Regions from separate parts of the Homo sapiens genome. Here region 1 is linked to region 2. Evidence: fine-mapped expression QTL. A gene starts in region 2. The other region holds a variant in brackets. All regions are shown on one strand. Distances are from middle to middle.

What was found. PIP is the estimated chance that this variant, and not a neighbour inherited with it, causes the effect.
Region 1: its variant is the best candidate, but not a certain one, in a credible set for the expression of GRIA1 in atrial appendage (GTEx, PIP 0.64).

The regions. Positions count from the first base shown.
Region 1 is chr5:153,518,988-153,522,987 of GRCh38, reverse strand. The region is part of intron 2 of GRIA1 (glutamate ionotropic receptor AMPA type subunit 1); the gene reads right to left. Among named protein-coding and RNA genes, the nearest start is that of GRIA1, 30 kb to the right of the region's middle. The variant C/T (reference allele first, on the strand shown) is at 2,084.
Region 2 is chr5:153,487,874-153,492,393 of GRCh38, reverse strand. It overlaps GRIA1 (glutamate ionotropic receptor AMPA type subunit 1), which reads right to left and starts at 1,724. Exons shown (of 16, transcript NM_000827.4): 1 at 1,424-1,724. The coding sequence starts at 1,505.

The sequences.
Region 1 (4,000 bases), 31 kb before region 2:
TATTTATACAGGAGAGCTGCTACAAGAGGCAATTCATTAATTAATAAGAATTCATACCTAACATTAAAGAAGATTTTTCTATGTTCTAGGCCCTATTTTTGATAATTTCATAGATTAATTAATTTGATCCTCAAAACCTTCCTCTGAGATAACATTTAGCTATTCCCAATTTTGCAGTTACATGGTAAGATTTCACTTTTCTACCTCCTTTAAAGTTAAGCCTGGCCATCAACTTGCTTGATCCAATGAACTGTGTGTGGAAATGATGTCCGTGACCTTGGGAATAAGGCTTTAGAGCCAGGGTGTGGCTTATTACATAAGTTCCTTTGACACTGTGATCATGTTAGGATGGTCCCTCTTTCAGCTTGGGTCCCTAAGGAAGCATGAGGAGCAATGCCTCTCCCCACTCCCCCACCATTTTGTGTTGGACTTGCAGCATGACCAAGAAATAAACTCATGTTATATTAGCCCATGGAAGTTTGGGGGTCATTTGTTACTGTGGTATAACCTGGCCTAACTTGACTGATACAAACTCTTACTCATTATGAATATGAGCTCTACGGTCAGACCACCTGAGTTCAATGTCCCTCTCCACCATTCATCAAATTGACTTCATTTTCAAAATGGGAATAACTATAGTGGCTACCTCACTGGGACATTTTAAATATCAATAATAACAACTTTACATGCCATGATACAGGTTACAGGTAGTATTTTAAACTGTTTATGTGTTCTCTGATTCAGTCCTTACAATAACCATCTTGCAAATGAGAAAACTGAGGCACAAATAGGATATGGCACTTGCCAAAGATTACACAGCTAGAAAGTAGTGGGTTCAGGATTCAAACCTAAGGCAGTTTAATTCCAGAGTCTTACACTTATCCACAGGCAATGTGTGGGAGCACTCAGCTCCCAACACAATAATTACAGGATCACTTTCTCCAGGTGGCATGAGAAAACTCAGTGTCTGGGTCCTACAGTCTTTTGAAGGGTGGGCCTAAAAAGTATGTCTGACCAGAAAAATAAATATATTGACTCTGAAATATTAAAAGCAAACTGTAAAATCAAATTAATAAATATTTAAATATCTATAAAACATGTCATTGCACCAACTAGTGTGCAGCAATGCCACTCAACTCACACATAAATCAGATTCAATGTGAGATGTGGGTGTGCTATAATATCTTTGGTGTAATGAGAGCAGCAAGACACACAACAGTGCATAGAGCCTAAAATATGCCTTAAAACAAGCCCCTGATTAGAGTTCAATGAATGTCAGCTATCATATTATTTTCATTATTGTCCTTAGCTTCAACCACCAGAGCTACATCTGAAGCTATTCAAAATTCTTCAAGGAAGCAAATTGGTCCCCTGAGCCACTCCCAAAAGGCTCTGGGAAGCTCACCACCGAGGATGGTTCTGTCCAGACTCAAGGGAAGGCAGCAAGACTGAGCTGCTTCTTTTTGCCCGGGAAGATCTATTTCTCCTTCCCCACTGAGCCAGATGTGGAAGCTGTAGTTCTGTCAAAGGGCTCCCAGACTGCCACAGGGCTGGGCATGGAGTTAAATAAAATGTACCTTTGCAGCTACAGCAGAAAGTCAGAGGCCATTGGAATCTGCAGCTGCCTGACTCCAGCTCTGCCTCTTACTCTGTTTCTCTGGTCCCTGATACTTTCTTCTGTTTATGGCATGTGTTACTCTGCATAAACTCTTCTTCCTGAAAGTTCACACTGACTCTTAAACCTTGGTCCACTGTCCAGGGTCTGCTGCATAGCCTAAGCATTGTGCTCACTCAGGACATGGTATCTGGAAATGCTTTCCATCCTTCATGCCAAGCTAACAGCCTCTGACCCCAGGCCCTCCCTTTTGTTCCCTCTTTTGATTCCGCTCATTTCATCAGCATGACTCGCAGAGTTTTCCTCATTTGTTTTTGAATTCTGGGGTAGTGATTTAATAGTAATAGGTTCAAAGATCAGACAGATCTGAATTCAAATCCTTGTTCCACTGCTTGTTAAGGGTGGGTGAACTTAGTAATTTACTAAACCTCTGTTTTTATAATCTATAAACTGGGGCCTAAAACATTA[C/T]CTGCTTCATGGAAATGCTTTCATGATTAAATGAAATAAGCCAGTGAAAGTAAGAAATATAATTGCTCAATAGATGTTAGCTATTTATATTGTTATTATTACTATTACTAATTCTTACGTTTGATTTTCAGAGGTTCCCTGTGAATCAGGTGAGTAAGAAATCCAGGTTCTTATTTCATGGAGAAGGAAGCAGAAGGTTGAATAGGTTGGGAGGCTGGCCCAAAGTTACAGCATTTGTAAGGAACAGAACTATGGAGCCTCTAGCACTAGATCTAGGAAGTCTTCTGTCTTTTATTCCTTCCATTGCTTGTATACATCTTCCCTACTCACTTCCATATCCATGGGCCCCCACAAAGACAATTTTAATGATGTCCTCATTTATTGCAGCAATTTTTGTAGGTAGGCCCTTGTGTCCTGTCTTTCATTAGAACAAAATCCCCCTTTCTTCTTATGCACCAAGCTCAAACCTCAAAGAACTGCAGAGAATCTTGAATCTGGCAACTTTTGATTTGGTAAATAATTTGCCTTTGTCCTTCAAGGCTCCACTGTGGGTGGCACTGCATTGTTCTGGATTCCCCTGAGAGAGCTAGCAATTTGTGGGCCAGCACATTCACCTCTGTGCCCTTCACCTTCTCTGTAGGATGTATAAGCTAAATAAAAGTTGAATGAATAAAATAAATGAATGACTAGAGAGTCTGAAGAATTCAGAGTGAGGTGAAAGAAAAGAAACGCTGCTTGCTGAAGGAGACCAGTTGGGAGTCTGGAAGCCTTGGGTCTAGAGGTTTTATTAAATTAATAAGCACTGACATATCTAGCAAAGAGCCTGGCCCACTTAAGCTCCCTAACACACATTAGCTATTGTTACTACGAACCTAACAGGCCATGAAATCACAGATACATCTCTTTACTTTGCCTCTCCCCTGGACAGGCAGATTAACAGATTAACAATCCTTTCACTCCTACTCTACTTTGTGTAACTGGAGAGATTTTTAAGGGAGAAAATAAAATTATCAAGAGGGAAAATAGATTATTAGAATATAAACATGCCTTGAAAATGTCAAAAATGTAATCAAAATGTATGGTATTACTATTGTACTAATTATTATCATTATATAATAATCTTCAACACATGGCAATATGGTCTGATATGAAGTATTCCTACAGAGAGACTTGATGATGTTTCCTTGTCTAGGACTGTCTTTCCTTTGCTGGTTGAAGCATGCTTCTCAAGGTGGATGGGGTCACAGACTCCATGCCCTTCAGGTCAGCTGTCTTCACAGGGGCTGCACTCCTGGATGATGTTTTACATGCTGCAGGTCCTGGAGCCAGGGTCAGGCAGGGTAACTGGCTTTATTCAGTCACAATCTGGCTTCTTCAGCCGTGGATTGAGAGCAATCTACACTCACAGCGTTAAGATGAGAACTGAGTTACAGAAAAACTTCAGACTCTGATCTAGTCTGATCTAGTATCCCATAAAATTAAGTCATTCAATAGGTAGTGGTTGTCAAACTTTGGTGAGCATCTTCAGAATCATCTGCGGGGCCTGTTAAAACAGAGTGCTGAGCCCCAACTCCAAAGTTTCTGATTCAGGAGGTCCGGCCTGAGACCCTCGAATTGGCATTTCTTTTCTTTCCTTTTTTTTTGAGATGGAGTCTCGCTCTGTCGTCCAGGCTGGAGTGCAGTGGCGTGATCTTGGCTCACTGCAGCTGCCACCTCCCGATTCCAGCGATTCTCCTGCCTCAGCCTCCTGAGGAGCTGGACTACAGGTGCGTGCCATCATGCCCGGCTAATTTTTTGTATTTTTGGTAGAGACGGGGTTTCACGGTGTTAGCCAGGATGGTCTCGATCTCCTGACCTTGTGATCTGCCCACCTCGGCCTCCCAAAGTGCTGGGATTACAGGCGTAAGCCACCGTGCC
Region 2 (4,520 bases):
GGCTACGGGCTGGGCTACAAGGGAAGTGTCTCCCCTGAAGGCAGGAAGTTTTGCGTGTTAGGCACTAACACACAGATACGTACACACTTCAGGATGTAGCTTAACAGGTGTCAGGAAACAAAGCAAGTTACTCCATGGCCACTCCAAGCCGCCAGCTAGCTGGAGAGGCTGAAAGAGATGGGTACTGCAGCACATGTATGCCCGACAAAATATCAATTGCACCACATCCCCCCTCAAACACACACTCACAAAAGAGCACAAACTCCCAGCAATGCGAACTTTCCCTAGTGGAGCTATCTCCCTACCAGGGGAGAGAGACTAGAAACCAAACCAACGAAGATGCTTCCAAACACAGCAGCTTGCTTCATTCCGGGACACAAACGACACTGACATGCTGGTCACACGGAAGCCCCAAGCCCTTGTGGACATGCTTTGTGATTGGTGTTATTGCTTCTGTTTGTTTTGCTTTCCCTCATGATTATCAGGAGTAGCAATATCTGTCAGTCCCCTCAGAAATACAGGGAGGGTGGCGGGGCCTTTGAGAAGTGTAACAACTAAGAAGGGGAAATGGGGAACAAAAAAAGCATGCAGCATGTTGAAACCTGCCTCCAAGTTGAGAGGATGGAGCCCAGTAACAAGGATAATGGAGAGCCAACAGGAGGAGAAAGGAGCATGTGTACGTGTGTGTGTTTGTGTGTGTAAAAGGTAGACCTCTGTGGATAGGAAATCTAAGAGGAGGGGGCAAGGAAGGAACGGAGAAAAGGCAGGCGAGGAAGTTCCAGGATCGGGGGAGTGGAGACCACCAGCGCAGCATGGCAGACAGCAAAGAGAAGGCAGCTGGAGGAGTCCAGAACAGGAGAGGGAGCCTACCCGCCTTGGAGTGGGGGCCTTCTGGCATTATTTCAGTGGCTGCAATATACCCAGCACCCCTCACTCCTTCTTCTCGAGGGTCTCTTTTCTGTCCCCCAGCAGAGAAAGCACTGCCTCCTTCAATTACATATATATGTGCATATGTAATATATAATCACACACGTGAAAACACACACACCATACATACTTACATTAAAAATGGAATCAAGCACCATCTACCAAGCAATAGAGTTAACTCCTTAAACACCCACCACCCTTTCCAGCCTGATTTTTTTTTTCCTCCAAAGCGATGGTTCCTCCATTTCACATGCTCTTGCCTGGAGTGCGAGTAGGGTATGTGTGCGTGTGTGAACACTTCCCCTCTGCCCCTCATCCGATCAGGAGAAGCCCCCTCCTCTGGCTGTAAGCCCAAGTCTCCCTTCTGTTACCGCAGCACAGCTTTAGGGAGCCAAGCAAAACAGTCAGTACCGGGGAGGGGGTACACAACCCCTATCCCCAAAAAAATCCCTGGCCAGACCCAGAAAGTCCCTCCCCAGGCTGCCCCCTCACTCACCGATCTGGATATTGTTGGGGAAATTGGCACCTACTACCGCGCCTAGGAAACCGGTGCAGAAGAAGGCAAAAATGTGCTGCATATTCCTTTTTGCATTGGCGAAAAAGAAGCCCAGGTCCAATCATAGATTTGGTGTTTCCCCCCCTTTCCCTTTATTCTTCTCGCTGTTCTGCCTGTTCTTTTCCTCCTGCAGTTCCTTCCTTGCTTGCTTGCTTCCTTCCTTTCGTGAGGTTTGTCTGTTTCCCTTGGAATCCGAACACTTAAACTGCAGCGTTAACACCAACTGACAGCCAGATTAACTGAGCACGGGAAAAGAAGCCCGTCCTCATGCTAGCTGGAGCGCTGGCTCCCCCACTCCCTCTCCTCTCCCCTCGCAGCCTGCCTCTCTCTCCCTCCCTTGCTCTCTCTCGCTCTCCCCCTCACACTCACACAGGCAGCAAGCTCTATGCTAATACCCACCGAGCTAGCTTGGAGTTCCACAGCCGACCTCCCTACCTGTTCCCCCTTCCTCCCATCCTCACCTTATCCTCCTTTCTGTGTGTGCAGAAAGGTGGAGGTGGGGGTGTGTGACACGTGGCACTTGGTCCTGAAAGGGGCAACCCCACAGTCCTCTTTACCCTCCCCTGCCTTTCTGAGCTCGGTCTGCCCGCTCCCCCAGCCCCCAGGCTGAAGCTGCTGGGAATGTGGGTTCAGCTGTAAGTCAGTAGGTGGCAGGGGGTCCCCACAATAGTCCTCAATCCACCAGCTGCTTGATCTAGGTCACTTTTTCTAGGAGTGCATGGGCTGCGCTGGATATATCTCCTGCACTCCACTGGCCCAATTATTCCTACAACTAATTCCTGAGGGAAAGACCCTAGAAATCCCTCCTAGGAAATTTAAAGGAAAAAAAAAAAAAAGCTTTCTCTCTCCTAATGGAAGGAATGACAGATAGACAAACAAGGGAGGATCTGGAGTGACTGGCAGGTATTTTGACCAGGTATTTGACAGTCCCTGTCTACCTTTACAAGTGAAACGGTGGTCTCTTTTCAATCCTAGGCATTTAAAATGGGCCCCCTTCTCTCTTTCCCTGCATTCCACAGGAGTCTATAGCATCAGAATCGTGTGGGTGTACAATAAAGACTAAGGATACTTACACAGAGCAATTACATGAGTCATTTTGCAGGGATTCTAGTGAGAGGATTCAAGCTTCTTTCAGGTCTTTCTGGATGCTGGTCATGTCTGGTGTAAGCTGGAACTTCATAGACTCTCCTAGACCAGGGCTTCTGCTGAAATAACCTGTAGAGAGATCAGCTGTGTTCAGGATAGTAGTGTTAAATGCAAAGCAGCAGCCACTAGCCGCCACAGAATACAGTTTTTGAAGGAACTTTACAGATTTTTATCCATCTATCTTCACTCCAAACCTGTAAAGTGGCCATGAGCCCTGTTTTACAGATGAAAAAGATAAGACTTCTGGGATTAAGTCATAAAGACACAGACCTACTAAGATGTACAGTACAACCTACAAACTTGAGTGCTTTGGCCGTTACCAGTTGACTTACTGCCCTGGCCAGGACTCCTGTCCAACAGGAGATGATCCAGGAAAAGGAAAGTCAACTTTGTCTTTAGTAAGAAAGAAATAATAGACTTTGGACTCCATTTTGCTTTGCCATATGAATAGGCCATTTTATCCACAGACTCTTCACTTCCCTCACCAGGACTGTATATCATGTGGACTTGAGTGACAGCTACAAGGACTGGGATTTGTAAAAAATATCTGACCATGTACAATGAAGCCCCAAAATAGGAACAACTTGGAGGTCAAATGCTTTGTGATTTCCTATGCACTTTCACATATATTAATTAATTAGCTAAAATAATTTTTAAGGCTAATGTTTATTCACTATTTTGAATGTGCCAGGTACCATGCTAAGAAATGCACCTGCATCATTTATTTGTACAATACCTGTGTAGGTAGCCTCATGCCCATTTTATAGATGAAGAAACAGAGGTCTAAAAACTCACCCCAAGTTTTCACTGCTAATGAAAGAGATTGGGCATTTAAACACAGTAAATGCCACCATCAGGCCCCAGCTCTTAACTCTTAGGCTCTAATAACAGCAAGCACTGGGTAGGAACCTTCTAAAGGAAGAATAAGCATCAGCATAGGAAGATGAGAGAACAGAATCAGGAAAGATCACTTCTAAGGTCTCTGCCAACATTAAGAGTCTCTGATTTAATGATTCCATCTTTTAATTTCTCCATTTTCAGTTTTTGTATCTTACTACTTTGAATAGTACCTGGGGATCTTTTAGGTTCCCTAAGCTTTGTGCCTGGTAATAATAATAATTAGGCTGTCATTAAAGGCTTCACACCTTGCAATCACCTTTTAGAGGAAGCTCTTTAGACCCTTTACAAGCAAAACCTCAATGTCCCCCTGCATTAGGTAAGATTTGTTTTGCATACTTTGTAGGGAGGGGACTTTTAAGGGAGTCAAAAAGATGAATTTTCCATGGTCATTATAAATCATATAGTCAAGCAGATCTTCCTAAAACAGAGGTCTACGTCATTGCCCTGCTCAAGTATGGTCAATAGCTCCCCTTGGTCTATTAAATACATAGTTGTTCACTGATTAAATATAGAACTTACATATTTCAAGTGTAGGCATCTAGGTCAAACTACATTAGGTTCAATGTTTATTCCATGTTTCTTTATAATTCTCTTCATTTCAAATGTTGGTGGGGAACCTATTCTGTATCTCACAGGGTGCCAGGTGCTGGGCAATATGAAGAGGAATCAGACACAGTCTCTGCCTCAAGGCAGGTGAATGTGGCAGAAGAAGAAGACAGACGAACCCGGACAACTGTCACCCAGAAAGACCATGACAAGTGCTCTAAAAGATGTAAACACAGCAGCGGGGGAGCAAAGAAGGATGCAATCAGTGTGTCTGTCTGTGGGGATCCAGCAAGGCTTCAAAAGAACTGAGCCGTGAAGGATGAGGAGATTATAGGCAGTAACTGAGGACTGGGAAGGACATGCAAACCAAGGAAAGAGCCCCAGCAAAGGCTGGGGGCAGGAAAGAATGCCACGTGCTCTGTTAGCCTGGAGCCGGCAGTGCATA